4 linked regions of the Homo sapiens genome follow. The protein of the gene in region 1 interacts with the protein of each later gene in a biochemical or structural test. Each region holds a gene or a part of one and is shown in the gene's direction. Other genes may lie near its edges. The genes, in order: MAP3K1, DTX1, BAALC and MAP4K2.

Region 1 (7,018 bases):
GTAAAAACCATACTTTGAATTTTGATTTTTGTCTGAGCTAGCAATATGTGCTATGATACACTGGTGATGCTAGGCAGTGGCAGCGAGTCACAGCTCCCAGTCAGCCACACAATCACGAGAGTGAACAACCAATACTCTATAGTGGACTGTGTTGTCAGATGATTTTGCGGAACAGTAGGCTAATGTAGGTATTATAAGCACATTCAAGGTAGGCCAGACTAAGCTATAATGTTTGGCAGGTTAGGTGTATTAACTGCATTTTCAACTTAAAAAAATATCATCAACTTAAAAGGGGTTTATCACGACATAACCTCAGCGTAAGTTGAAGAGCATCTGTGTATGTGTGTATTTCCAGGAGTTGATATTGTCAATGGTGTTGTCAATGTTAGTGACATACATAGTCACTTCTTGTTATTTGAGGTAGTTATGCTCTGTTAAGTTGCTACAAATATTGAATTAGCAAATACTAAAACACTGCTTCTAGAAGAAATATGTAGTGTGTTTATATGTATATGTATGTGTGTATATATATCCATCCATCACTTTAAAAACGTGAAATTCATGCATTTTACATAATTCAAAAATCTTAAAATCTAATTTACCATTTTCTTTTGTTCGTTTGTTTTTTGTTTTTGTTTTTGAGACAGAGTCTCGCTGCAGTGCCCAGGCTGGAGTGCAGTGGCACGATCTCAGCTCACTATAGCCTCCGCTTCCCAGGTTCAGGCAGTTCTCCTGCCTCAGCCTCCCAGGTAGCTGAGACTACAGGCACGCGCCACCATGCCCAGCTAATTTTTGTATTTTTAGTAGAGATGGAGTTTCACCATATTGGCCAGGCTGGTCTCGAACTCCTGACCTCAAGCCCACCTCAGCCTCCCAAAGTACTGGGATTACAGGCGTGAGCCACCACTCCTGGCCTAATTTACTATTTTGTATATTTTAAAAATTCACACCCAAGTCAGTTCAGTCCTGTCTGCCTTTCCTACTTTTTTATAACTCACAAATCCATTCTCTCCTTTTCCACCATAGAATAAGTAATGGTTGATATTCTTAGCTTTTCAGTAGATGTGATGGTTGAAATCATGGGCTTTGGAGTCACACTGACCTAGTTTTAAACCCTGGCTCTACCCCTTAATGGCCATGTAATCATAGGAAAATTATTTTTTGTGTCTACCCTCCATTTTCTCACATGTAAAATTGGTGCAAGAACCCCATGAAGCATGTACTTCGTGGGATTACTATGAAGATAAACAAAATTATACCTAGGCCTTAGTCAAGCACTCAGCCCACACAGTCAGCTCCACCTGCCATAACCTCCTCCAGTGCTCCCCACACTTATTATATAACCTCCTCAGTCACCTCTCTGACAATACCTGTTTTGTATTATCACCTCATTTCCTCTATTCTTTCAGACGTCCCATGTCCGTTCTCTACGTGGTTCAAATTCTTATTCTCTTTAAGGCCCCCATTTTGTGCTTCTCCTGCTTGGGCACCCCCTTTTTACTCATTCCAGATTCTCATAGCATTTTAGTACATACTTGTTTCTGACACTTTGTTTCTTGTTTGCTAGTTATGTTCCTATCTTGCTGCCTCTTTCAAACTAATTCTCCTTGAGGTCCATTCATGTCTGATTCATTTTCTTCTTCCCAGAGTCTTATACAGAAGTTGCTCAATAAATACTCATGGCTAGGATCAATTTGAAAGTTTGATGTTATTTTAAGAGTTTTGATGAGACCCTGGAAACAATTGTAAATAATTTTCAAATTGGCACAGTTCATATTTTAACAGATTTCATTGCATTCTCCTTCCTAGGTAGAGTTTAAAGAGAATTGTACTGTAACATTTTCAGTTTCCTTAATTTGGAGTAAATACTTTGAGGTTTTTGGAAGCACCCCAAAGCTTTCTCAAACACTTCCATACCCTGTTTATGGTAGTATAAATTGCCATAGCACGTTTTTTTAGAGAGTGATTTGGCAATATCTGCCAGAATTTTTAATGCACTTATTCTTTGACTCAGCTATGCCCATTGTTAGGAATTTACTCAAGATTACCTCTAGAAGTACCAAGTGCCAAGTTCAGGATTATTCACTCTACTCAAGAAAGTAATTAAATTATCCACACTATACAGAAATTAAACGAGTATGAAGCTGTTGGTGTTGATTTACAAAGTGCTACAAGATACATTAATAAGTGAAAAGAGCAAGGTATATAAAGTGATCCTGGCCAAGCACAGTGGCTCATGCCTGTAATCCCAGCACTTTGGGAGGCTGAGGCAAGAACAAAACTTGAACCCAGGAGTTGGAGAGCAGCCTGGGCATAGCGAGACCCCATCTCTACCAAAAAAAAAAAAAAATTAGCTGGGCATAGTGAGACGCACCTGTGCTCCAGGGTACTCAGGAGGTTGAGGTGGGAGGATCGCTTGAGCCCAGGAGGTCAAAGCTGCAGTGAGCCATGTTCATATCACTGCACTTCAGCCTGGGTGACAGTGAGAGCGAGACCCTGTCTCTAAATTAAGTTTTCTCTTTTGTAGACATTTTAGAAAATCTTAAGTCTGTGAATATATTGGCCTTTTTTCCTCCACAAAACACACACAGACACACACACACCCCCCCCCCCCACACACACACACACAAATCATCAGTAAGTTACATTTGGGGAAAAGAAGGAAGAGGGACTTTTTTTGTTTTGTATTTTTCCTTTTTGTGGTGTGTAAGATGTGTATATATCAGCTGAGTATATCATGATACAGGATCACAGACCTTAGAGGATTTTTCTTTATATTACTTTGCATTTTTTAACCCAAAGCATTTATGAAATTACTGGGGTAGGGAAAAGAGAGTTTTCTTGTGATTAGGAGTGGATAGGTGAGTTTAAAGTATTCAGACTTGATATTAGCCCTTTGTCAGATGAGTAGATTGCAAAAATTTTCTCCCATTCTGTAGGTTGCCTGTTCACTCTGATGGTAGTTTCTTTTGCTCTGCAGAAGCGCTTTAGTTTAATTAGATCCCATTTGTCAATTTTGGCTTTTGTTGCCATTGCTTTTGGTGTTTTAGACATGAAGTCCTTGCCCATGCCTATGTCCTGAATGGTATTGCCTAGGTTTTCTTCTAGGGTTTTTATGGTTTTAGGTCTAACATTTAAGTCTTTAATCCATCTTGAATTTTTTTATAAGGTGTAAGGAAGGGATCCAGTTTCAGCTTTCTACATATGGCTAGCCAGTTTTCCCAGAACCATTTCTTAAATAGGGAATCATTTCCCCATTTCTTGTTTTTGTCAGGTTTGTCAAAGATCAGATGGTTGTAGATGTGTGGGATTATTTCTGAGGGCCCTATTCTGTTCCATTGGTCTATATCTCTGTTTTGGCACCAGTACCATGCTGTTTTGGTTACTGTAGCCTTGTAGTATAGTTTGAAGTCAGGTAGCATGATGCCTCCAGCTTTGTTCTTTTGGCTTAGGATTGACTTGGCAATGTGGGCTCTTTTTTGGTTCCATATGAACTTAAGTAGTTTTTTCCAATTCTGTGAAGAAAGTCATTGGTAGCTTGATGGGGACGGCATTGAATCTATGAATTACCTTGGGCAGTATGGCCATTTTCACGATATCGATTCTTCCTATCCATGAGCATGGAATGTTCTTCCATTTGTTTGTGTCCTCTTTTATTTCATTGAGCACTGGTTTGTAGTTCTTGAAGAGGTCCTTCACATCCCTTGTAAGTTGGATTCCTAGGTATTTTATTCTCTTTGAAGCAATTGTGAATGGGAGTTCACTCATGATTTGGCTGTTTGTCTGTTATTGGTGTATAAGAATGCTTGTGATTTTTGCACATTGATTTTGTATCCTGAGACTTTGCTGAAGTTGCTTATCAGCTTAATGAAACTGAAGAATGCTAAAGACAAGAAGGAACCAAAGAGAAAAGACAAATTACAAGAAAAAAAATTGATAACAATTATATGGATAACAGAATACAGCAGCAACAAGAGAATTCAAAAGACAAATTGTACCTTCTAGTGATTGAAATAAAATAACAGTTAACCTAGGATTTCATAGCTAGCTAAATGATCATCAAAAAATAAGAATGAAATAGAGATATTTTCAGACACATGAGAATTGTGGAAGTTTACCTTCAGCAGACACTCACTGAAAAAAATTATTTTTAGGAATGCATTTCAAGAAGAAGAAAATTGATACCACAAATAGGGAGATATGCAAGAAAGACACTATCTCTGCCTGGAGTCAGCTCTGATTCATAATGGGTGCTCAAAAATTGTTAGAAAACTAATACTTTTTTTTATATATGACTTGAAATTAAAATATGGTTATTGCAGCACAAATTTTAGAATGTAAAGAGTGTATCACAATTTAAAAATAATTATCAGATTTTGAATTTTTTTAGAAAAACTACAAATAAGACCAAATAAAATTTCTTTTTTTTTAAAAAAAAAGTATTCAGACTTACAATTTGTTTATAAAAAAGTTATTCTTCATAGTGTATTTGATACTAAGAATCAGAATTTGTCCAACACGGAAGGAAAAAAACAATGCAGTTGTGTTTTCTATGTATTAAATTGACTCTTCAGTTTTAGTCTTTCTTAATCTAAATAGCTCTGTATGCTGAAGAAATAGAAAACGTGCAGTAAGAACAAACCATCTCGGAGATTGAATATGAGGACAGCAGAATTCATTTGAGTGAATACTTTATCTACCTGAACATTTTGATGTACTTAGCCTTGTTGATGTAAATAATAAGGAATAGGATATATTTGATCAAATCCTAAAATCCTAAAATTTGAAAGATTGTTAGAGAAAACCTCCCATCCAGTGGATGAATTTTTTCATAGACTTTTTGATAGCAGAAAATCCTCCCACTTCTGCTTCAGTTCCTCTCTGTTCAGGATGTAAATGTAAGGGTTATGAGGTCTATGCACATGTGTTTCTGTATCAGAAGTTACAGTTGTGCAAAGCTTCAACACTGGCTTTTTCTCCACAGATTGCTAGTGCAACTACTGCTCCATCGATCCCTTCACATTTGTCTCCTGGTTTACGAGATGTGGCTCTTCGTTGTTTAGAACTTCAACCTCAGGACAGACCTCCATCAAGAGAGCTACTGAAGCATCCAGTCTTTCGTACTACATGGTAGCCAATTATGCAGATCAACTACAGTAGAAACAGGATGCTCAACAAGAGAAAAAAAACTTGTGGGGAACCACATTGATATTCTACTGGCCATGATGCCACTGAACAGCTATGAACGAGGCCAGTGGGGAACCCTTACCTAAGTATGTGATTGACAAATCATGATCTGTACCTAAGCTCAGTATGCAAAAGCCCAAACTAGTGCAGAAACTGTAAACTGTGCCTTTCAAAGAACTGGCCCTAGGTGAACAGGAAAACAATGAAGTTTGCATGACTAAATTGCAGAAGCATAATTTTATTTTTTTGGAGCACTTTTTCAGCAATATTAGCGGCTGAGGGGCTCAGGATCTATTTTAATATTTCAATTATTCTTCCATTTCATATAGTGATCACAAGCAGGGGGTTCTGCAATTCCGTTCAAATTTTTTGTCACTGGCTATAAAATCAGTATCTGCCTCTTTTAGGTCAGAGTATGCTATGAGTAGCAATACATACATATATTTTTAAAAGTTGATACTTCTTTATGACCCACAGTTGACCTTTATTTTCTTAAATACCAGGGCAGTTGTGGCTCATTGTGCATTTTACTGTTGGCCCATTCATTTCGTTTTTGGAAATTATGGTTTTGTATTTTCATGTTTATTTACATTCATTTTTGTTTATTCAGGGAAAGCTGATCTTTTTTTCAAACCAGAAAAAAAAAATGAACTAGATATGAAGTAGAGTTCATTAAATATCTTGCTATTGTCAGAGTTTTTAAAATATAGACTTAATTTTGTTTTTTTAAATTGGAATACAATAAAGTACTACCTACATTTGAGTCAGTCACCACTCTTATTGTGCAGGTTAAGTACAAGTTAACTAAAAATAAACTGTCCTCTCTGGTGCAACTCACAACCAAGATCAAGATTACCTTAAAATTTATTTGAATTTTTTAGATGTTTTGGTTGTCAAACTGTAGGAAACTTCACAACATTTAAGTCTTACTCTGTATGTAACAATCCATCATTCACCTTCACTACTGGTAGTAACATAGAGCTGCCATTTTCCTTTTACCATGCATCATCTCTTTACAGTAGGCCTGGCAGATCATTTTTTAAAAAGATTATTCAACTACCAATCAGTAATGTTTTTAAACAGTACATTTGCTTTGAACTTGGAAAATGTGTTCAGAAAGAAAAATGGAATTGAATTTCATTTATACACTAATTCCTTGGATTTTGCACAGTTACCTAACGGTTTTAGTCTGGAGTTAAATTCAGATGCATGGAATCCTGAAGGAAAATGGTAGCTTTTTAATCTTTTTGTGTGTGTGTGAGTCTTTTAAATCAAGTACTGATTAACTATTAAGTACAACTTTGAGATTTTAGTTTTAACTCTTCAGAAGCCAGTGTGAAATAGAATTGGTTATTCTCAAAGACTCAGGATAAACTAAATAAGCTATATATAGAGTACATTTAAAATGTACAACACAAATTGGAAATAAAATAAGTTACAAGATAAGTTTACAGGGATATATTGCTTACAATTTTTAAAAGGCAGTTTGTTTTTTATGTGAATATGTTTCTTAGTGAAATTTTACATTCCTTTGTTTTGGAAGATTGGCGATATTTGAAGAGTTAAAAATAGTACAGAAATGTGAAGTTTGGTATCTCTAAATGTGTTGTACTTGACTTTCTTTTTTATTTTGTTTTTTTTTTTTTTTGACTACTTAGAATTTTCACAATTCTAATAAGATTGTTTCCAAGTCTCTCATGTGCAAGCTTTAAAGGATGCACTCTTGCCATTTTATGTACTGGAAGATCATTGGTCAGATGAATACTGTGTCTGACAAAAATGTAAACTGTATAAACTGAGGAACCTCAGCTAATCAGTATTACTTTGTAGA
Region 2 (7,887 bases), on another chromosome or scaffold:
AAAAGCTCGCAATATCACATATGATTAGCCCAACTACCTAGAGACAGGTTGACAACCATCTCTCAGTTTTAATCCCTTAAATCCAGGGAAAGAACCATTGGCCAAAGCCTACAAATACCTGGACCCCCCAGCCAACTACATCAGTTTCTGAGGGTGGGGCTTGGACATGGGTAATTTGTATGCACTCTGCAGGAGATTCTCACATGAATCCAGGGTGGGACCCAGTGCTCTGGGGTGGGGAGGGCGTTCATCTCACCATCTCGCCCATAGATGCTCAAGCTGCTTTCAACTCCGGCTGTATGTGAATTTCAGAGCAAGACCCTGGGATGAATCTGTGCTCACCTGGAACCAGCCTCTGCCTGGTGATGGGGAGACACTGCTCCCAGGAACCATGACCTGCACACATGGCCACGAGAGCAGTGCCCACCTTAACCTTGGGCCTGCAGACCCTCCTCGCTAAGCAAAGCCGGCTGTGGATGTCACCCTTCTGAGGCTTCTCCAATTCTACTGCCCATTCTCAGCAGGCAGCAAAAGACCTTTCACCACTCGCACCCCACCAGTGTCCTACAGGCCCAAGGAACACTCTGACTTCCAGGGGCCCCATTTCAGTCCCCAGAGACACCCAAACAGTCCTTCTCACTCTGTTTCCTGTTTTCCACTTAAACTTTTTCTCAACTGCTGAAGGGGAGGTCACAGCTGGTCTGCACAGAAGAATGTAGAGGGCTGGAGAGAAGGGCTCAAAAAAGCCTAACTCACTCGGCTCCACAGGCTGGGGACAGGGGTGGCATGTGTCTCCCAGGGCTCATACCCTAATGCACATGCCCCTAATACGGTCTTCAGTGTTACTCATCTTGTTTTGTGTCCCCTTCCAGACTCTCCTGTACCTAGACCAGGGCTGGACATACAGTAGGTACTCAATAAAGTCTAGTTAATTCCAGGCTCTTTCCAACACAAATCAAATCACATCAAATTTTTAGTAATTCCCATGACTCTTAGAATAAAATTGCAAACCCACACTGGGTCTTATAAGGCCCTGCATGGTAGCTCTGCCTCTTCTGGCCCCAGGCTCACCCCTCTTCTTTCTCAGTGGTTACTTGGTCTCCTTTCTGTTGCTTTAACACACCAAGCGCTTTCCCACCTCTGGGCCTTTGCACATCCCTGTTTCCTCTGATTTAATCATTCCCCCTCCTACCCCACTCAGCCACATTAAGACCTATGAATCCTTCAGGGAGTGGCTGAAACATCAACTCCTCTGAAAAGCCCTCCCTGATTCCTTAGACCTGATAAGACCCCTGTTAGATGTCCTCACGATATCCTGTACTTTTCCCTCATAGTCTTTGCAAAAGTTTGGAATTAGACTTTGTGTGATTCTTGATTCATGTCCGACTTCCTCACTAGACTCTGAGACCCAGGAGGGCAGGGACCATGCTGCTGGTGTCAGCTCTCTATCTCAGCACGTAGCCCAGTGCCTGGCACATAGGAGGGCATCTGGTATTTTTTGGATGAATGGATGGATGGATGGATGGATGAATAAGTGGATAAGAGGAAGGAAGGGGCCGGGTGCGGTGACTCATGCCTGTAATCCCAGCACTTCGGGAGGCCAAGGCAGGTGGATCATGAGGTCAGGAGATCAAGACCATCCTGGCCAACATGGTGAAACCCCATCTCTACTAAAAATATAAAAATTAGCTGGGCGTGGTGGCACGTGCCTCTAATTGCAGCTACTTGGGAGGCTGAGGCAGGAGAATCACTTGAACCAGGGAGTCAGAGGTTTCAGTGAGCTGAGATTGCGCCACTGTGCTCCAGCCTGGTGACAGAGCAAGATTCCATCTTAAAAAAATAAAAATAAAAAGAGGAAGGAAGGAAGGAAGGGAGAGATGGAGGAAGGGAAGCAAGGAAGGTGGGAAATTTCATACATGAATGTATAGATGAATGGATGAATAAATGGATAGATGGATTGATGGATGGATGATGGGTGGGTGGGTGTATGGATGAATGGATGATGGATGAGTGGGTGGATGGGTGAATGACTGGATGGATGGGTGGGTGGGTGGGTGGGTGGGTGGATGGATGGGTGGAATGGATGGATGGAGGATGGGTGGATAGATGAATGGATAGACGGGTGGATGGATAAGTGGATGGTGGATGGCAGAACAAAAAAAATGAGTTGGTCTCTTTCTGCCATCTTTCTGAGCTGCTATAATGGTGCATGTGAACGTCCTGGCCAGTGTTCTCAATAGCATCAACATGCTGAGAAGAGAAGCAAATACCAGGTTGTTTTAGGTTGTGTTCCAAAATCATCATCTAGTTTCTAAGTGTGATGATGAAGTTTAGTTTACATCAGTGAATTTGCAATCATCAATAATCACAGAGCTAGAAAAATCACTGTGGACCTCACAGGCAGGTTAAACAAGTGTACAGTGACAAGCCCCAGTTTGATGTGCAACTCAAAGATCTAGAAAAATGGTACCCCTATCCCCTTTGGTTTCATTGTCCTGACAACCTCAGCTGGTATCAGGGATTGCAAGGAAGCAAGACAAAAATACACAGGAGGGAAAATCCTGGGATTGTTTTTCTAGGGATGTAATAAATTCATATGAATAAAATGCCTCAATGGACCAAAAAAAAAAAAACAGTTCATGATTGATTGCTTTTGCTTTTGTCCTATTGACTTCCCCATTGGTATCTGAGCCATCCCTCCCATGAATTGTGGGCTCCTTGGTGGCCAAATTCCTTCCCTCTCCTTGGAATTCTTTTCTCCCCAAGTTCCCTGGGAGCAGAGTGTTGCATTCCCAGATGTTCCAAACCCAGTTGAGAGGGGCCATTAAGGGCCACTCTGCACCAGATCCTCAGCTGGGTGCCATCCAGTAGTCACTCAACAAACACAGAGGCAGCATGGTGCTATGGGAGGTGCAAAAGCATTTGGGACTCAGACCCTAGCTCTGCCACTTACTCCTTGTGGGAACTTGGGTAAGCTACTTAGCCTTTCTGAGCTTCAGGAGGTTTTTTGTTTCCTTGTGTAAAATGAGGACAACATTACCTTCCTTGTGGGGCAGTTATGAAGAGTAGTAAGTATTATTTAAGTGCCTGGCACATAATAGGCACTCAGTAAATGACACCCTTATGTAATGGGGCACCAGCCACACCACACCAAGATGAATATGATGGCTATCTCACTCTAGCAGGGACAGATTTCATTTAAGAGGCTAATTGTGATACAGGGTGTCATGTCAAGGTATGGGCAAAGGAACACAGAGGAAGATGGGGTGAATTCAGGAAAGGCTTCCTGGAGGAGGTGACATTTAATCAGACCTTAAATAGCATTCGACAGGAAGTCCAGAGACACGAGTTCTTCTTTCCAATTTGCTGCTAAATCACCATGCGACCTTGAGCCAATCTCTTCTCCACTGTGGGATCCCCAGATCCTTCTACAACATAAGCTGGTTGAGCACCTGCTCTGAATCCGTTCAGTCACAGTCTCCTGTGAGAAGAATCTGCTGACAGCCAGAGCCCTTCTTCCCAGACATACAAGACACACAATGCCTAGACACACAAGTTTGCCTGTAATGGGAGAGGGGGACTTCATGGACCCCAGAAGGCCATCCAGGGACCCTAGGCTAAAATCCCAGAACTCAGTGATCCTGTGGGAGTATCGTCAGACTTGGCCCTGCCCTATGCAAAGCCTCTCTCTTTAGTCTACAGCAGGTGAAAGCAAGCAGAATCATTGACCCAATCTGAAAAAGCCCATCCAACACTGGGCTGCAGGTCAGAGCAGGGGCCTGGGGAGGGGAGGTCCCTCCAGCTGGCCGGAGAGCCAGAGCTGGATTCTGGGAAAGCACCCCTGAGCAGCCTGCCCCTGACCCTGCCTAGTGTATCCCCATCTGCCCCGGGGAGGCAGGCGTGGGCTGCTCTGGGCAGGCGCCCAAACAGGCCACTGACCCCCGTCAGCCACCCAGGCTGGAGTTCCCGGACGCATCCTTCATCTTCCCCAATCTAAACACCCCCAGGCCCCAGGTGGTCCACCCCCCTCCCAGCCAATGTGTGTCTCAGCCGCATCCAGCTTGCTGGAGGACAGGGGGACTGGCCATCCCGTTAACACTTGAGCCGCTGCCATTTCCAGCCTTCCCTTCCATCCAACCAATGCTCACCCACCATTTATTGAGCACCAGTTGTTTGCAGGTGGCTGTGAATGACATGGCAGAGGGCCTGCCCTTCTCTTCCTCCAGGATCTCACCTCCTGGCCAGGGTCCCCTCCCCTGGTCCCACCCCTCTCACCTGGAGCAGGTGGGTGCTTTGGGGGAAGTGGGCTCAGGGCTGGGAACTGGGTACTGGCAGGAGATTCAGATCGGGGTTGGTGTCTGGGCATCGCTCTAAGCTTTTGTGATCCTGGGCCTGGCTCTTACTCTCTCTGGCTTCAGTCTCCTCATCTGTACTCTTCAGATTCCACGGTTCCAACTGAGTCTGAATCAGGCCTTGTCAGCACCCTCCCACCCCCAGGAATAGTTAGAGGAGGAAAGGAGGCTAGCTCTGAATGCTTCAAGATCTTTCTTTAGACAGTCTCTGGATCTTATTCATTCATTCAAGCATTTATTGAGCACCTATTCAGTGCCAGGCCCTGGACTGGGAGACTGGAAATAAAGATGACAAAGATTCAAGCCGGTGACTCCTAAACATCCCACTCCCTGCCTCACGCTCTGCTTGGGGTCAGAAGGCCCCTTGGGGTCTCGGGAGGGCCTGGCCGAGGATTTGGGGCGCCCCGAGACTCGCGTGTCAGCGCCGGTGGCGCTCAGGGCCGAGATCTGTCTCCTCCCCTTCCTCCTCCTCCGCCCCCTCCCCTCTCCCTCCCGGAGCACGGCCGAGGCCTCCTCCCACCCGCGAGATCCCGGCGGCCGCCAGCCGGCTCCTGCGTCCGTCCGTCGGCCGGGCAGTCTGTCCACGCGCGGAAAGCTCGGCGCGGCGGCCGAGGGGCCTGGGAGGGAACGGGCGCGGAGGCGGGACCGCGGCTCCCTCCCACTCCGGGGGGAGCCCAGGAGGCGGCGGTGCTGGAGCGCGAGCCGGAGCCGGAGCCGGAGACGAAGAGAGGCGGTGAGAACGCGGGTGCTTAGGGACCCCACCCCCGGCTCCCGCTGGGGGCCCGCGAGCGGCTCGGGGACGTCTGGGCTGGGGAAGCGGGGCTGTTACCCCCAGGGCGGGAGGCAGAGACGATCCAGCTCCTGGCTTCGCCCCCTCCGCGACGCGACCCCCGAGGGGCCCTGGGCCGCGCCTGCAGCGCCGCGCATCCCCGTGCTTCCCGGCGCACCCCAGCGCACCCGGCATCCCCCCGGCAGGGCGAGGGCCCCGGGGGAAGGGAAGGCTCCGGGAGCCAAGGAGGGCGCCCCCCAGGCGGAGAGTCTCGGAAAACCGCGCCCCCGGCCCCTGCCTTCCCTCCAGGCCTGCCCCAAGGGAAAGCGGGCGGGGCGACCCCGTACGCCCCCCTTGCTGTCCCCCTTCGGTTCCCCATTGTTCTCAGCCGAATGCTCTCCTGGGAAGGGGGGAGGGGGTGCTGCGCTCTCCTCTTAAAGGGCCCTCTCCCCTCTTGTCTCCTGGCAGGTCGCGAGCACGAGTGGGGTGGGGCGTGCCCACGGGCCCCCGCCCCCCTCGTCCCCCTCGTCCCCCAGCCCAGCTCCGGAGCCGCAGTCCAGGCGCGCCGCCCGAGGGTCCACGCCGCACCCCTCCCCCGTGCGTTCTGCGGCCACCCAGGCCTTCCAGGACACCGTGGAGAGGGAACAAGGGGGCAGGGACGCCCCCTTCGGCAGGAGCCGTCGGAGAAGGGGGCCCAGACCGGAGGGAGGCGAGAAGCCCCACTGAAGCCGGGCGCAGGGTCTGGGACGCAGTTGGGAGTGCAAAGGGCTGGCTGAGAGCCGCAGGAGCAGCAGGCTGTGGCCCAGGCCTCCTGGGTGACAGGCCCTGTCTGGCGGGGAAGAGGGACCAAGAGACAACACGGAAGAGGCTGGACCTCGAACAGGGGCGGCTGCCTCACTCCCTACCTGAGCCAGCCGAGGGGGCCAAGGACTTTAGAGCTGTTTCCTCCGGCATAAGAGAGACACTTGCTTTCCAGGGCAGCACCCTTTATCGGAGAAGGCTCTACAGGGAAGGGGTCTTTGCAGCCTGGATGGCCATCCCACATTCCTTTAACGGAGGTCTCTAGGCCTCAGAGAGAACCCAGAGTTAGAAAGGAGGCCAGACGGTCCTTGCTGTCCCCCTGGGGAGAGAGGAAGTTGCCGCCTGCTGCCAGGCCCAGGAGGAGCTGGGCCTGCAATAGTGGGGGACCTGGCCCCTGAGGCAGTGGCGGCCATGTCACGGCCAGGCCACGGTGGGCTGATGCCTGTGAATGGTCTGGGCTTCCCACCGCAGAACGTGGCCCGGGTGGTGGTGTGGGAGTGGCTGAATGAGCACAGCCGCTGGCGGCCCTACACGGCCACCGTGTGCCACCACATTGAGAACGTGCTGAAGGAGGACGCTCGCGGTTCCGTGGTCCTGGGGCAGGTGGACGCCCAGCTTGTGCCCTACATCATCGACCTGCAGTCCATGCACCAGTTTCGCCAGGACACAGGTGAGCAGACACCCACCCCATGCCACCCGCCCCGCCGAGCCATCACTACCTTGCAGCGTAGGATGCTGAAAATCCCAGTAAATCTGCTGATGCCAAATCCCTTCCCCATCTCCCTGCCTCACCTCCAGAAAAACAGGGCAGTCTAACCTTGTCCAGTTTAAGACTTGGATTCCAATGCAGCCTCTGAGCAAGCTGTAGGGCCTTGAGCAAGTTGCATCATCTCTCTGAGCCTCAGTTTCCTCATCTGCAAAATGGGTAGATCAATATCTCTCACAGCTGAGTGAGGATTAAATAAAATTGTGCTCACTGAGCACAGAACCTAGAACAGCAGTAGCATGGGATTGTAGAATAAGGGCTTTACATGCACTTCCTCATTTGATTTTTCCCAAGAATCACAGGCAGTAAGTCTGTGTATTGTTGTATTATTATGAGTCCCATTTTATAGATGAAGAAACCGAGTCTCCCAGAAGCTGAGTGATTTAAACTCAGAGCTGGGATTTAAACCCAGGCGGTTGAGTTCCAGAACCAAAGTTCTTAACTGGTATCCTATACTGGCTCCAAGTGTTGGTTTGTGGGGTGGAGTCGTGCTGGTGGTAATTAATTGGGGATGGGGGGCGTTGGTGGTGTTGATGGTGGGGTGAGGTGGCAATGATGGAGGAGACAGTGTTAGCGGTTGTGTTGGTGGTGACTCAGTGATAGTATTGATGGTGGTGGGGTCTTGGTGACAATGGAGGGATGGATGATGGTGACGTGGCAGTGTTGGTGGTGATGTCAGTGATAGCGTTAACCATGGGATTCAGTGGTGTTGGTGACATTGATAGTTGTGTTGGTGGTGGTGCTGGAAGTGGTGTGATGGGGTGGTGATGATGGAGAAAATGAGAGAATGATGTTGGTGGCAGTCTTCGTGGCCATGTGGTGTGGCTGGTAGCCCTGTGTGTGGCTGTTACTTAGTGGTATTGGTGATCCTGTTGTGGTTGTAATGATGGTGATGTTGATGGTTGCGTTGGTGGTAATGTGATGGCTGATGATGGAGATAAAATCGATGAGGTCCCACTCTCAGGCCTACTCTCTTTTGTTCTGGAGATTTGTCATCGTTGGGGAGATCTCCCTGAGTCATTGCCCGGTGGTATCTGTGACAAGCTCCATGGGCAGTGGGGACTGGTGGGGTCCTGCCGTGCAGAAGCAGCCTAGAAATCCTTGGCATGTTTGACCCCCCAAGGACCAGCTGATGGGGTTTGGGGAAGTTCCTATGAATCCCTGGATGACAGAACCACACGTAATAACCCCAGGCTGGT
Region 3 (7,925 bases), on another chromosome or scaffold:
AACTGGGAAACACCCGAAAAAATTTGCTTTGTCCTGTGTTTTAATTTGGGGTATGATAAAGTGCCACAGGACATTAATCCAGGGACTGAGATAGACTCTTAAGTTTGGCAATCAGTGAAAGAACTTGCTGAATCTCTCTAGAATTAACCTAAAGGAGCCAGCCTCTTTTCTCATGAGAACAATTTATTTTAGGGTTAGTGGTGAATTAATTCTACAGTGTTTAATTCCACATATAAACTTCATTTTCTATATAAATGTTTTGTTGTAACATATTCAATTACTTCCTTTTGTTGTTTTTCTGCAACATTCCCTTTTTCACCTTTTCTAACCTCTTAAACCAAATAAAAAACTCACTTATCTTCTTGCTGTTGTAATATTTGCTTTCCTTTCTTGTTTATACTCTGTAATGATGTTTACCCGATCTGTCCACATCACCTGGATTCCAGGTGTACCATTCATGCCCTGGGGAAAGCAGTCATTCTTCAAGGCAACAGATGCAAGAATGAGCTCATGTCAAATGATATTTTCTGATTTTTTTCTCCAGATGTGGGGAACGAAATTGGATCTTGTGCTTTTGGGTGCTAACTTTGAGCCCTCTTCCTTTACATCTAAATGACAATTTGTGGATCAATGAGGATGTGTCAACTAGCCAAGATCGAGGACCTGGAGGGGTGCTCTGTGGAAACTGCTTTAAAATCCTTCAGAGGGTGGGCACGGAGCTCTGGTTCTGGTATGTTCACTGAATCTGTAGCAGTGGGGAAACTTGCTGAGATTTGGCATTCAAGACCAAAGAGATTTACCTAGGATCTGTACCCTGTTGGCCAGAATTATTGCTACTGTTGTTCTTCAATTATGCTACTTTTTCACTTGGAAAGAGATGGAAACTTGTAAGGCAGTGAATCTATCTTTACTCCTTTTCAGATGGCTGATTCTAAAGGCAGGTTTAGGTTCCTGCTAACCCTTCTGTTCTGTCCTGATTGTCCGCCTTACTGAAGGTCTGTTTTCTACAGCTCACAATAGTCGGGTAGAGTCCAGTGATGCCAAGCCACAGAAATGAGACCTTGGAGGGAGAAGCACTACAGGCCTTTGCTTCAGTTTCCATAGAAATGAGCCAGAGGTGGTACCAGTCACAGGGGTTCTTAAAGCCAGAGAGAATTTATTTTGAGAATCCCATCATATAGCAAATACCACTCTGCAGTAGTTTTTACAGGTGTAATTTATTTCATTGCTCTGGATGGCTTTGGCTCAGGCTTTCCAATGCCCTGTTGCAGCATTTCTCCTTAGGAGAATTCTTTTTTTGTTGCTTTCAAACTTGATGGAAAAAGATAACCAATTCATGCCAGTCAAGCTACAGATTCTGAACAGAGGGTTTAAGATAATGTATTACATTTTACATATTTACATTTAATTTATGACATTTATTCCTGAAGGTTTAGGAGAAAATTCAATCCCAACTAAAGAGCTGTAATTAAAAGAGCACGGAGCCAGCAGCCACAGGCCCCCAGCTCTGGCTGAAACTTCAGCTCTGCCAGAGATAACATTTCCTGTGTGACCTTGGGCAATTTTACAGCTTTCTGAGCTACGATTTCCTAGTTGGTAAAATAAAAGGACTGGATTGGCTGCTCTTTAACTTTTTCTGGCTTCTGAATTTCTCTGAATCAATGGTGTTACGTAATGCCAAGAAAGAGATTCCATGAAAAAATCTAACTGCTCTGTCGATGATGATTACTTAGAAATGGGGGTAAAAAAATTTATTTGCAGGAAGGTTGTTAGCAGTAACATCATAACGGAAGGAAAAAGAAAGGAAAGAAAAGAAAAAAACCTACCTATTTACCAAACTTCTGCAGTGTGCTAAGCAAATTCACAAACATTATCTCATGTGAAAAGACATAATAATTTCAGGGATTTCCCTCTTAAGGAAGAGAGATGACATTGTTGCTTGTTGCCCCAAAAGTGTTGTGATAGCAACATTCATGGAGTGTTTCTATGTGCCAGGCACTCTTTGAGGCCCTTTACACATACTGACACAATTTATTATTCCAATTTACAGACGATGCAGTTGAGGCATAAAGAGGTTAAGTAGCTTGCCCAAGACCATCCACTTAAGTAGCAGAGCCAAACTTTAAACTCAGAGAGTCAGGCTCTTGAAATTGCACTGTTAACTGTATCCCCACCTTGTCTTTTGCTATTCATTCATTAGGCAAACATTTGATGAGCACTGACTCTATGAAGGCATTAAGTTAATCCCTTTTGAAGATTCCAAGCATGTCACCATATCTTTGTCTTTAAGAAGCTTAAACTATACACAATAGATGATCAGAAATGTGTGTGAAATGAGTGACCACACTCAACCTTAGCCAGGCAGTACTTGATAACCATCTCCTGTATTCTGGAAATGTTCATAATTCCATTCAAGTAAGTAGACAGGGCCTGGCAAGAGGGGTCCCTGCTCTGGGCTCCTGCCCCAGAGGTCCCACTCTGGTTCTCCAGCCCTGGTCCTCTCTATGGCCAAGGAATCCAGGGATCACAGAATGCACGTACCTGGAGCCTGAGTCTCAGCCCCTTCTAACCTCCCTGTTGGGTAGTTGAGACCTTGCAACTCTCTTCTCCAAACCCACTGAGCCTACTTCCAGGGCTTGTACTGGAAGCAAACCCCATGAGGGCAGACCACATCCCCCAGGCACATGCTCCTCAGCCAGAGGGATGGCCAAGGGCAGCTATTTGTGGGAGGGGAGTATGGACAGACCTTAGACCCATGGGCCCACAAGGACCCGTGTGTAGCAGGACTGAACTGAGGATAGAAAGAGGAGTGGGTGGGTCAATTCCACCCACAATCCCACTGCCATGTTCAGTGCAGAACTCCAAAGACTGAGAGAACTCTACATTAGAACCTGGCCTTTTAAGTTTTTATGAAGATAACTTGTCAAGGTATGAGGACAGCCCATGTTTCAATTAAACTTGCTCACTTGGTTTATAGCTTTTACAATTTAGACATATGGGCATGTGGGTTTCTATTTGGCCCCAGGATACCCCTCCACTTCACCTCACGTTTACTCTGTTTCCTGTGCTCACCAAGCTCTAGCTCTTTCAGTTTCTTTCGTTTTCTAGAACTCCCCCAGGACGGTCTAACTCAGACACTCTTTCTGGTCTGTCTGCTCTTTGGGTGGTGACATCACGAAGTGGCTGGTTATGAAAGGAGCACTGTGCCGTAGAACTGAGGAAAGCACAGGCTCTGCTAGAGATGTTAAGTATTCTCTCTCCCTGAAAGCTGGTTCTTCTGAAATCAAAATATTCAGGGGGGAAGGAAAAGAGGCACAGGGCATCTGAATTCCAAAGGACTAGGGAAGCCACCACTTCCCGGATAACTGCACTCCCTCCACCTTACACCTAAAACAAGGTTGAAGAGTCCTGTCAAGGCCATCTCAAAAGGAGAAGCAAAGCCTGCAGAGGAGGCCAGCCTGAGTCCTGGGGTGCGAACGGGTGCTGCGCTCAGCATGAGGAGGAGGAGACCCTGGCCACAGTTCCATGAATCTTTGCTCCCTTCCACATTATGGATTCTGGTGAGTGCCTGCCAGAGGAATGTCTGACAGCTCTACCCTCAACTGGATCATCTTTAGCCCAAATTACAATAATTTAAGTGAATCAAATTACTATAAAAAGATACTTCATTATTAATTCACTGGACATTTACTGAGGGCCTACTCTGTGCCAGGCAATGCTCTGAACTTGCCCTACCTATTGGATGCTACGTGCTAAATGTTATAGACAATGTACTCTCGTACATTCTATAAATTATATAGGATATAATGAGTACTATATTCTCTATGCTTTACATGCTATATTAAACATCACACCCTATAGTCTACATACAATGGATAATATACAAAATATATTATATATGTATTATGTCTACTAGAACAGTCTTTTGCCACAATAGGAATTTAGTAAATATACATTGAATGAATGAATGAATGAATATGATACTTAATACCATATTCTAGCAGAGCTTGGTCATTGAAGAGTTATTCTTCCAAACCCTTCCCTTTCCTACCCCCCTCTTGAAGGCTAAGAAGATTTTCATCTTTCACCACCTGTTCTGGATTCTTGGAACAGGTAAATTCATTGGCCTACGCAAGTCTGAGCTCTAGGTCTGAACCCGCATGGACCTGAGGGTGCACCGAGAAAAGAAAGGCTGACAACTGGATCCCGGGAATGTCAAGGCCACCCTGGGCTTGAAGGGACCGGCCATGCCTCCAAGCCTTGCCCAGAGAGGGGGTTCAGGATGCTGCGTGGTTCCAGGTGATCTATTGCTTTCTCGAGTTTAAAGTTCAGAGGATCATGAAGTACCACAGCTGGAAGGGGTGTAAGTGACACTGCCTAGCCTAACTCTCTTAAAAATCATAGCCCTACTCCTGCCTCCCCAAATCAGATACGACAGGCATAGGCTCTGACTGTTCCTTAAGTCTTAGTGGCAATACTCCCTGACCAGTTTTGCGGGGTTGCTCCCAGTTCCATTGCTTTTGTAACAGGTGGCCAGAAAGCCTGGGGTCCCGTGATAAGAGTTTCAGTTCTTTCCAGGATGGATGGAAAGAAGGAAGGAAGGATGGATGGATGGATGAATGAATGAGCGGGTGAGCGGATGGATGGATGGATGGATGGATGGATGGATAGATGGGCCAGAGACTGGGAACGGTAATGCCGGCCAGACGGGTCCGAGCGCCTCGGGAGCCCCAGCCCTCCTCCGGCTGCGGGGCCGCTGCTCCTGCTCCCGGGCCGTCACGGAGCCCTGAGGGAGGGGGCGGGCGAGCGGGGGCCTTGGGGCGGCCAGGGCGCTGGGAGGGAGGACTGGGCGGTGGGGACCGGAGGGGAGGGAGGGCCTTGGAGGCGGAGAGGAGGGACGGGCTGGGAGAGGGCCCGGACTAGGGGCGGCGGGCACCGCAGGAGCTCCGCGCGGCTGCAGCGCGGGCGGGAGCGGGGACGCGATGTCGCCGCCGCCGCCTCCTTGCGGGCCGGGGCTGCGCCTCCGGGGCTGAGCCGCCGCCAGAGCCGACAGCCGAGCAGCCGCTGGGCGCTCCCGCGGCGCAGGAGGATGGGCTGCGGCGGGAGCCGGGCGGATGCCATCGAGCCCCGCTACTACGAGAGCTGGACCCGGGAGACAGAATCCACCTGGCTCACCTACACCGACTCGGACGCGCCGCCCAGCGCCGCCGCCCCGGACAGCGGCCCCGAAGCGGGCGGCCTGCACTCGGGTAAGTGGCCGGGCCCCTGCAGACCCTCGCCCGCCCGCTACCCCGGGCGCCTTGGCCCGGGCACTGAGAGAGGAGCCGGTTCCCTGAGGAATTGATGGCGCGGCGGGGGTGGCTGGGAGGAAGCAGAGGCAGGACCTGCCCACTGATCAGTGGACAGATGCAAGCCCAGGGAGTGGGGTCGACCAGAGCCCCTTACCGAAGGCTGCGCCGATGCCCCAGCTTCCAGCAGCCCAATGCTCTTTGGCCTTGTCCAAAGCTTGCTCGCTGGTCGGGAGACCGGTGGGTGGGAGGACAGCCCACCTCCTCCGCACACATATCCCTCAGCCACCCACCCCCTGATCCGCCCAGGGCCGCCTCCGCCCCGCTTTGGCCCATCTGCCATCCCCTGGCCACCTGCGTACCCAGCCGGGTGACTTCTCATCCATTGGCCACCTGGTGCCCCTCTCTCCCTGGATTTATACACAAGGCGCCTGCCTGGGATCGCCTGGGTGGAGTCTTTCTTGTCGCTTCCCCTTTTCTCCCTCTAGGAAATGAGCCCACTCGCGGGCTTCAAAGACCAGAATCCCAGTTTAGGTCAAAATAAATGCACCCCGCCCCATCGCTAGTTCTGCACTTTAGGTTACTTTTGGAGCAGTTGTTCCATAGCAAAGGACTTCTCTCCCTACCCTATGGTGTCCCAATGCTTTGCAGGAGGCAGGGCACACATGTGGATTTTGACTATAAATTAAATACTCTTGCCTAGGTCATTCCTCATCCAGCAGAAATCTGATAAAAGGAGATGCAAAGAATTGTCTGGTCAGGTCATAAGTCAGGATTTTATTTTATTTTATTTTTTTATTTTTTAGCAGAACAAGTAATTATAGCGCAGAGATGCAAACTGTTGCCACAGACTGACCTTTAATCATAAACATATTGGTGACATTAAAAGGAAAAAATCTCACTACTTATTACATGGATGTTGTCCAAAGCAAGGTCAATATTTGGATAAAAATGTTTTAAGTGTTTCTTCACCCACTGATATTATTGGCATTTTTGAATAATGAAATCTAAAATGGAAAATAGGGTTAATTTGAAGCATAATGTATAACATATGGAAGAGGAAGGAAATGCGAATTACTTTTACAAGGTTAAGAATCTTAAATCCATGCCTACTAAATAGAGCTGTCACTTTAATCAAGAATAGGTTTCTCCATTTTTAAGGACCAAAGCTGGCTCCTTTTCCACATTAACTTTGTGACTTGGTTTTATTTTAAAATTGAGGACTGTCTGTGAAAGCTGTACAATACATTACACTATATTTGTCTCCAGTTTTTCTGACTCACAGTGGCAATCAGAATGGTTATTTTGTATTGCCAATGCTTTTAGCAAGTCACCAAATGGTGTGTTGGCTGAATTCAGTGTCAGCATGAGGATAGATATGAGCCTTTTAGAGGGACCTGGTAAATGTTAGATGTGACAGGGTTTCCCAAGGAGGTATGGTACTTCTCAGCAGAGAGTCAAAGGCCAGAGATGTACTCCGAAGAAATAAGGGTGAAAAGATCTAGCATGAAAAAAATAATAATAAAAAACAACCAAAACCCCGTAAGTACAGCTTTAAGAAATGGTTGCCGTGGTGACTGGGAGTATATGGTGTGTGTGTGTATGTGCGTATATGCATATGTATGGGTATGAAAGAGTTATTATGGGATGGCTCTATATGTACATACATGTTCCTCACAACTTTCCTGACACTCCTTGATTTATTACTCTGCCATACTAATTCATATCCCATCCATCATGAGATCTGGTCACTGCAACAGGTGGGGCCTGGGACAGACACACTCATTCATGGTACCCTGCCAAACATGGGCCAGCCCTGCCAGAGAGGTGGTCCTGAAGGCCTGCATCCTCCAGAGGAGAAGCTCCACTTCAGCCCCAGGACAGCACCCTGAAATTGGCAAGACGCTTGTATGGGCAGGGTCATTTTAATTCCCTGGGAATTTCTGTTAGCCTCAGGGGAGAGGGATATTTCTGAAGACCAAGATTAAATCAAGGCCTTCTTTGGGGGTGTACTGGCATTCCCTAGGGCCTTTGGGAATGGCTTGACTTCTGTGGGTTTTTCAGACTGGGAGCTGGTCATCTTTAGTCAGAATGGGTCATCCGTGAAAGCTACAGATCTCCTGGGTTTCAGCCACCCTGGGAGACTGGCCAGGATTCTGTATTCCTTTCATCTTCTCTGCCCCCTCACTTCCACCTCACCCACCCCCTGCCAGTGCTTTACTCATGATTTTACTCCCAAGCTGCTGGGGGACACCTAACAGCCCCCAGTGGCTGCGTTGTGATAGGAGGCCAGAATGCCACTTTTTCCTGTTTACAGAAGTTGTTTTCTGATGGGAGAGGTGGGTAGGAGTAAATGAAAGAGCCAGTAGATTCAGGAGAGTCCAGACTGTGAAATCAACAAAAATGGCTTCACTACTAGAATTCTAGAGCTGGAGAAGGTCTCTGGAAGTCAGCCACGTGAGTCAAATGAGACTCTCAGGGGAATCATCCCCATCTGAACACTCCTTCAACCACTCACAGACTTTACCCTCAGCTCCCAAGAATCCCTTCTTTCTGGGACCTTAGTGATTCTCCTTTGGTGTCAAACTGAAGCCACCTTTTCTCCTGGCTACTTCAGGACTTTTGAGGGCTAGGGGA
Region 4 (7,404 bases), on another chromosome or scaffold:
TTCCATTGACCTGCACACCGACTCGCTGGAGCTTCTGCAGCTGCAGCAGGTGAGGGCTGAGCCAATGGGGCAGGACTGGGCTAGGCCAGACTTGACTTGCTGTGGGACCCTGGGCAGGGGCACTTTCCCTTCCTGAGCTTCAGCTTCCCCTCCTGGAAAAATGGGTTAGTAATTCCTGGCCTGGCCTTTCCCAGGGCTCTTGGGAGAGTAGAATTGAGATGTGAAATTGCTTTGACTCCATTAAAGGGCTGGTCCCAGAATTTTGGCCCTTCCACATGGTGGGTGGTCCCTGTTGGTTCTGACCCCCACCTCTGCCCGATAGGCTAAGGACCCGTTCTCCTCCCTGTTCCGTGGCTCATAACTCTCTCCTTCGGCTCCTAGAAGCTGCTCTGGCTGCTCTATGACCTGGGACATCTGGAAAGGTCAGTAGAGGGAAGTGGCCAGGCTGCGCCTGGTGAGGCCGGGGGGCTGGGTGGCAGCCTGAATTATGATCCTTTCCTAGGTACCCCATGGCCTTAGGGAACCTGGCAGATCTAGAGGAGCTGGAGCCCACCCCTGGCCGGCCAGACCCACTCACCCTCTACCACAAGGTGGGGGCATCTAAGGAGGGTGCAGAAGGGAGACCCTAACAGTGGCTGAGGCAGGGGCCCTCATCTGGGCAGATGAGAAGAGAACTTTGTGTGTTGGGGGGTATCGCCCATCCAGTCTCACTTTGTGTCAACTGTGTGCAGAATCAGTTCAGTCAGGGCTGTCTGAGGGGTGTCCAGGGTTCCCCAGCCTGGGAGTGGCAGGGGCTGCATTTGTCCCCTCAGCCCTGCCTTTTCTGCCACTGCTTACTGTCCTTCCTGGAGTATAACAGAGGTCAAATGTGGCAGGAGCACTGATGAAGAGGGGGTGTTCACTTGGTGGGTGTAGGTGGGGAGGAGGGCCATTGGGCTGGGCTTGAAAGTCTTTGGTGATGTGTAGAAGAGTGTCTGAGAAAGAGAAGGGCCCTGAGCTCGGAGGGCAGGCCCCACCCCTGCAGTCTGCCCCAGGCCTCAGCCAGCAGTCCTGTAGACCCAGGGAGGAGACCAGGTAGAAGGGCTGGCAGCGAGTGGAGGTGGGAGTGGAGATGGAGAGGACTCCCTGGGATCTTCCTGTGGCCCCTTCTGGGTGTGCCCTGGTGGGGCATTTGTGCCAGCAGGGCAGCTGGGGCTGCCTCCCTGAGGATCCTCTGCCTCACCTCCATCCAGGGCATTGCCTCAGCCAAGACCTACTATCGGGATGAACACATCTACCCCTACATGTACCTGGCTGGCTACCACTGTCGCAACCGCAATGTGCGGGAAGCCCTGCAGGCCTGGGCGGACACGGCCACTGTCATCCAGGAGTGAGGATCCCCCTACTAGGGCCTGCAGCCTGTCCTTTCTTCCCCTCCATCAGTTTCCAACCACCCTCGTCCAGGACTGAGGCCTGGCTCCCACGCCCCATCCCCTTTCCATCCAGTCCCTAGGCAGCAAGGCCACCATTACCCAGGAGGTAGGGACCCTGATTAAGGTGTCACATCTTTCCCTCCCTCCCCTCTCCTCCTAATTTTTTTTTTCTCAGAACAGTCTCAAATCTCCAATGTTTAACCACCATCATCCAGCAGTGGGACTTCCACCCTCGGCCCCATGCCCCCCTCCTCATTCTTGCTTTCTTCCTCTGGGCTGACCCAGACAGCATCATTTTGCAGTGAGGACCCCACCTACTCCCCCAGCCCCTGGGGGCTCCATCCCCCGCCAGGTCCCTGGGGCTACCCCCGATGGTGAGACCCCTTCAGACCCTACAGAGACCCCACTGCTCTCACAGCTACAACTACTGCCGGGAAGACGAGGAGATCTACAAGGAGTTCTTTGAAGTAGCCAATGATGTCATCCCCAACCTGCTGAAGGAGGCAGCCAGCTTGCTGGAGGCGGGCGAGGAGCGGCCGGGGGAGCAAAGCCAGGTGAAAGGCTGGAGCTCCAGCCTGTGTCCAGCCTCCCACCTGGACAGGGCTCCCTTCCACAGGCCATGGGGGCTGCATGTACGGGATTAGGGATGGCAGGAGGAAGGTGGCCCTGAGCAGACAGCTATGTTCCCTTTTGCTATAACTGAGGTCCTGGGCCCACGTTGGACGGGACTGAAGGTATTTTAGAGGTTTCTACCCTGTGCCTTCAGTTTCATGGCCAGACTCCCTCCCTCAGCTGAGGGGTGGAGGTAGGGATGGTACGTCCTGGCTATGGATTGGCTTTATAAAAGGAAAGAGGTTCTAAGAATGTTCCCAACCTATGCTTACCTTTTCTGGAGCCAGGGGTCTTTGCCTAGGTGGGGGGCCTGGCCTGTGCCCTCTGCTAAGGGGTGAGTAAGAGACTGATCTGTGCCCTCCCTTCCCCCTCGTCCAGGGCACCCAGAGCCAAGGTTCCGCCCTCCAGGACCCTGAGTGCTTCGCCCACCTGCTGCGATTCTACGACGGCATCTGCAAATGGGAGGAGGGCAGTCCCACGCCTGTGCTGCATGTGGGCTGGGCCACCTTTCTTGTGCAGTCCCTAGGCCGTTTTGAGGGACAGGTGAGGGACAGCTGCACAGAGGTCTGGGCACTACAGGTGGTGACAGCAGCCACGGGCTTGTCAGACTTTTCTGGCCCAGGGGCAGCATCTGCCCATCCCCTTGGGTGCCGATGGGACTGAGACCCCCTGGGTGGGATGGGATGGCCAGAGCAGGGTCCTGGAGTTCCAGCCACTGGCCGGCAACCTTGCTCTCACCTTGCTCTCCCCACTGGCCCAGGTGCGGCAGAAGGTGCGCATAGTGAGCCGAGAGGCCGAGGCGGCCGAGGCCGAGGAGCCGTGGGGCGAGGAAGCCCGGGAAGGCCGGCGGCGGGGCCCACGGCGGGAGTCCAAGCCAGAGGAGCCCCCGCCGCCCAAGAAGCCAGCACTGGACAAGGGCCTGGGCACCGGCCAGGGTGCAGTGTCAGGACCCCCCCGGAAGCCTCCTGGGACTGTCGCTGGCACAGCCCGAGGCCCTGAAGGTGGCAGCACGGCTCAGGTGCCAGCACCCACAGCATCACCACCGCCGGAGGGTCCAGTGCTCACTTTCCAGAGTGAGAAGATGAAGGGCATGAAGGAGCTGCTGGTGGCCACCAAGATCAACTCGAGCGCCATCAAGCTGCAACTCACGGCACAGTCGCAAGTGCAGATGAAGAAGCAGAAAGTGTCCACCCCTAGTGACTACACTCTGTCTTTCCTCAAGCGGCAGCGCAAAGGCCTCTGAACTACTGGGGACTTCGGACCGCTTGTGGGGACCCAGGCTCCGCCCTTAGTCCCCCAACTCTGAGCCCATGTTCTGCCCCCAGCCCAAAGGGGACAGGCCTCACCTCTACCCAAACCCTAGGTTCCCGGTCCCGAGTACAGTCTGTATCAAACCCACGATTTTCTCCAGCTCAGAACCCAGGGCTCTGCCCCAGTCGTTAGAATATAGGTCTCTTCTCCCAGAATCCCAGCCGGCCAATGGAAACCTCACGCTGGGTCCTAATTACCAGTCTTTAAAGGCCCAGCCCCTAGAAACCCAAGCTCCTCCTCGGAACCGCTCACCTAGAGCCAGACCAACGTTACTCAGGGCTCCTCCCAGCTTGTAGGAGCTGAGGTTTCACCCTTAACCCAAGGAGCACAGGTCCCACCTCCAGCCCGGGAGCCTAGGACCACTCAGCCCCTAGGAGTATATTTCCGCACTTCAGAATTCCATATCTTGCGAATCCAAGCTCCCTGCCCCAAATAACTTCAGTCCTGCTCCAGAATTTGGAAATCCTAGTTTCCTCTCCTTCGTATCCCGAGTCTGGGACACAAAACTCCGCCCCCAGCCTATGAGCATCCTGAGCCCCGCCCTCTTCCTGACGAAACTGGCCCCGGATCAGAGCAGGACCTCCCTTCCGACCCTCTGGGAACCTCCCAGAGGTCCAGCCCATCTCGGAGCATCCCGGAGGAAATCTGCAGAGGGTTAGGAGTGGGTGACAAGAGCCTGATCTCTTCCTGTTTTGTACATAGATTTATTTTTCAGTTCCAAGAAAGATGAATACATTTTGTTAAAAAAAATATAAAGCGCAAGTCCATGTTTATCTGGGAAATTGGGGATGGGGCGGGGAGTGGAGCGCCCCCTCTTCCCTCTGTCTTCTGGCTCCCGGGACTTTGCGCTCCCTACCTGTGGAGCGCGAGCGACAGTGGCGGCGGAAGGACGTAGGCTCCGCCCCGGCCTTGGGGCTTCCCCGCGCCGCCGAGGGCCCGTCCCGCGGGCGCCTCCTCCCGGACTGGCGGTGGGGCATCCCCGGCGCGGCCCCGCCCCCGGGCCTCAGCCCCGCCCCCGCGGCCTCAGAGCCACGGGCGCCCGCCCCGCCCCGCGCCGCCCCGCGCCGGCTCCGCAGCTCGCGCCCGCCCGCCTGCCGGCCCGCCCGGCGCCGGGCCATGGCGCTGCTGCGGGATGTGTCGCTGCAGGACCCGCGGGACCGCTTCGAGCTGCTGCAGCGCGTGGGGGCCGGGACCTATGGCGACGTCTACAAGGTGCGACGGGACGGGCGGGAGAGCCGGGAGGAGGGTGCCAGCCCCGCACCCCGCGGCAGGATCTAGCCCCCGGCCCCGCCCCCCATCCCGCTTCACCCTCCGCCCCTGCAGGCCCGCGACACGGTCACGTCCGAACTGGCCGCCGTGAAGATAGTCAAGCTAGACCCAGGTGAGGGCCCGGGTCGGGCCTCTGCGCCAGAGGAAGGGCAGAGCGCCCGCGGGCGCGGGGTGCGGGCGGAGGGTTGACGTTTCCGAGACCCCTGAGAGGCGTGCCCCGGGAGGTGCTGTCACCTGCACCTGCCTGGCCCGGAGGGAGGCACTCTGTGCCCATTTTGCAGATGGGGGCACTGAGTCAGGGCAACCCCAGCGCGCCTTCCCCATGATGCTTTGTGCTTCCCAGGGGACGACATCAGCTCCCTCCAGCAGGAAATCACCATCCTGCGTGAGTGCCGCCACCCCAATGTGGTGGCCTACATTGGCAGCTACCTCAGGTGAGGCTGCCTTATCCTCCTGGCCCCAGGCAGCCCCCATGTGACCTGCTTTGTGCCCACCCCAGCTCTTTGTCCCTAGGAATGACCGCTTGTGGATCTGCATGGAGTTCTGCGGAGGGGGCTCCCTGCAGGAGATTTACCATGGTGAGGCCAGGGCTCCAGGCCCCAGCAGGCCCCAGCCTTCCCCCACCCCTACCCCACTGGGGTACCAGAGGGGACTCTGGGCCCTGGACTTGGGCTCCTCTCCACTCCTGCCTGGCTGTGTGACCTTGAGAGAAATACTGTCCATCTCTGGGTTCAGTATCCTAGACTAAACTGGGAGGGGACGTGGCCAACACCGCTTTCATTTAACAGTGCCTGCTGCTTTTCCCACACACGGTAGCCTGGGAGGGTGGGCATGACCCCCGGGCCCCCAAGCCAGCCTCTCCCTTTTCCTTTCAGCCACTGGGCCCCTGGAGGAGCGGCAGATTGCCTACGTCTGCCGAGAGGCACTGAAGGTAGCTGGGCCTGTGAGGTGCCCACACCTCTGGTCTCCAGAAGCTGTGGGCCAGGAGCCCAGATGACCAGCAGGGAGGCGGGTGGAGTGCCTCGGGTGGGGCTGGCCCGAGGGGCTGTAGGTCCTGGGGAAAAGGGGCCCCAGCCCTGTTGCCGGAAGCAGTCCATTTCCCTCTTGGCTCAGTCACTTCCTGTTTGGGGAGAGGGGAGGAAGAAGCAGCCTGAGTGGGGGGCCCCAGTCCTGAGAGGGGGTTTGGGGAGGTGGGACAGTGCTGGGTGGCTGCTCTCAGGGACTCCTCTTTGTCGCCAGGGGCTCCACCACCTGCATTCTCAGGGGAAGATCCACAGAGACATCAAGGTAGGCACCTAGCTGGGGGCACTCCTGGGGAGGGAGGAGGAGGCCCTCGGGGGCACCAGATGGGATTGTCTCTCCTCCATTCCCACAGGGAGCCAACCTTCTCCTCACTCTCCAGGGAGATGTCAAACTGGGTCAGTACCCTGGGGACACCATCAGGGTGAGGGCTCTGTGGACCCTCCCCGGCTACCCTGGACTCAAGGGTTGGGTGTCACTGGGCAAGTCACTTTGCCACTTGAGTCTCAGTTTCCCTGCTTAGAAGATGGAACGGTACTCCCTCCCTGCTGGAAAATAGAGGAGGTTGGGTCTGCACGGAGTTGACATGGGACCAGGCACTCCGTCAGGGATAGAGGGTGGTTGACCCCTCTCAGGAGAGGGACCTGGCCTTGCCTAGGGCCTGCGGCAGCTGTGACCAAGCGGGGCCACCTGCCCGTCTGAGCCCTGCCAGGTGCAGCCGAGCCAGAGCCCTGGGCGTGGGAGGGTGAGTGGCAGCCAGAGGGCTGGTGAGAGTGGCTGTTTCTCCCCACAGCTGACTTTGGGGTGTCAGGCGAGCTGACAGCGTCTGTGGCCAAGAGGAGGTCTTTCATTGGGACTCCCTACTGGTGAGGCTGCGCCTGGGGCGGAGGGGTAGGGGCCACAGAGCAGGGCACCCGGCCATCCCATCTGTGACCCCACCTCTAGGATGGCTCCCGAGGTGGCTGCTGTGGAGCGCAAAGGTGGCTACAATGAGCTATGTGACGTCTGGGCCCTGGGCATCACTGCCATTGAGCTGGGCGAGCTGCAGCCCCCTCTGTTCCACCTGCACCCCATGAGGTCAGCCCAACACTTGCCCCTCACCTGACCCTTGATCTGCGGCCTGTGGCCCCTGACCTCGCGCCCTCCACAGGGCCCTGATGCTCATGTCGAAGAGCAGCTTCCAGCCGCCCAAACTGAGAGATAAGACTCGCTGGTAAGGGCCACACCCTGCTGCCGGGACCCCCTTTTCTGTCAGCCCCATAGTGGACAAACAGCCTCTGCCAACTCCCGGGGGGCAACCCCAAGAGCCCTGTCCTTTCTGGGCTACTACAGACCATCTGAGTCAGGGGCCTGGTCCTTCTGTGGGTTGAAGACCCAGCGTGGTCAGGAAAGAAGGGCAGAGGGTTGGTGGAGGAGCCGCTGTGTCGCAAGGCAGCGTTGCTCGGCCAGTGGCCCTTGGCCTCGGCTGGCTCCTTCCTGGGTGGGCCCAGCAGACGCCTCTGGAGGGGTGGTAGGGCAGCTGGCAGGACACCCTGCACGAGGGCTAACCTGGATCTGGCGCTGGGGGGCTCTTGTGCCTTCTAGGACCCAGAATTTCCACCACTTTCTCAAACTGGCCCTGACCAAGAATCCTAAGAAGAGGCCGACAGCAGAGAAGCTCCTGCAGGTGGGAGGCAGGGGGCCGGGAGAGAGGCCCAGTACTCAAAAGCAGGGCCCTGGATCAGGGGCCAACCTGATCACCCCCCTCCCCCACTTTCCAGCACCCGTTCACGACTCAGCA

The links.
Region 2: the proteins of MAP3K1 (region 1) and DTX1 form a complex in vitro, tested with the Homo sapiens proteins (one study listed by BioGRID).
Region 3: the proteins of MAP3K1 (region 1) and BAALC form a complex in vitro, tested with the Homo sapiens proteins (one study listed by BioGRID).
Region 4: the proteins of MAP3K1 (region 1) and MAP4K2 form a complex in vitro, tested with the Homo sapiens proteins (one study listed by BioGRID).

The regions. Positions count from the first base shown.
Region 1 is NC_000005.10:56,888,547-56,895,564, forward strand, and holds part of MAP3K1 (mitogen-activated protein kinase kinase kinase 1), read left to right. Parts: intron 1-4,984; coding exon 4,985-5,134; 3' UTR 5,135-7,018. UniProt on the Homo sapiens protein: Component of a protein kinase signal transduction cascade. Activates the ERK and JNK kinase pathways by phosphorylation of MAP2K1 and MAP2K4. May phosphorylate the MAPK8/JNK1 kinase.
Region 2 is NC_000012.12:113,051,860-113,059,746, forward strand, and holds the start of DTX1 (E3 ubiquitin-protein ligase DTX1), read left to right. Parts: upstream 1-4,870; 5' UTR 4,871-5,085; intron 5,086-5,589; 5' UTR 5,590-6,333; coding exon 6,334-6,592; intron 6,593-7,887. UniProt on the Homo sapiens protein: Functions as a ubiquitin ligase protein in vivo, mediating ubiquitination and promoting degradation of MEKK1, suggesting that it may regulate the Notch pathway via some ubiquitin ligase activity.
Region 3 is NC_000008.11:103,135,809-103,143,733, forward strand, and holds the start of BAALC (brain and acute leukemia cytoplasmic protein), read left to right. Parts: upstream 1-4,916; 5' UTR 4,917-5,089; coding exon 5,090-5,249; intron 5,250-5,445; exon of another isoform or gene 5,446-5,534; intron 5,535-7,925. UniProt on the Homo sapiens protein: May play a synaptic role at the postsynaptic lipid rafts possibly through interaction with CAMK2A.
Region 4 is NC_000011.10:64,800,197-64,807,600, reverse strand, and holds the start of MAP4K2 (mitogen-activated protein kinase kinase kinase kinase 2), read left to right. Parts: upstream 1-4,386; 5' UTR 4,387-4,451; coding exon 4,452-4,547; intron 4,548-4,658; coding exon 4,659-4,716; intron 4,717-4,947; coding exon 4,948-5,038; intron 5,039-5,117; coding exon 5,118-5,182; intron 5,183-5,479; coding exon 5,480-5,535; intron 5,536-5,843; coding exon 5,844-5,891; intron 5,892-5,979; coding exon 5,980-6,022; intron 6,023-6,417; coding exon 6,418-6,490; intron 6,491-6,569; coding exon 6,570-6,701; intron 6,702-6,774; coding exon 6,775-6,837; intron 6,838-7,208; coding exon 7,209-7,290; intron 7,291-7,384; coding exon 7,385-7,404. Other genes in the region: MEN1 (menin), read left to right, coding at 1-49, 382-422, 503-590, 1,233-1,369, 1,588-1,713, 1,831-1,966, 2,403-2,567, 2,785-3,267. UniProt on the Homo sapiens protein: Serine/threonine-protein kinase which acts as an essential component of the MAP kinase signal transduction pathway.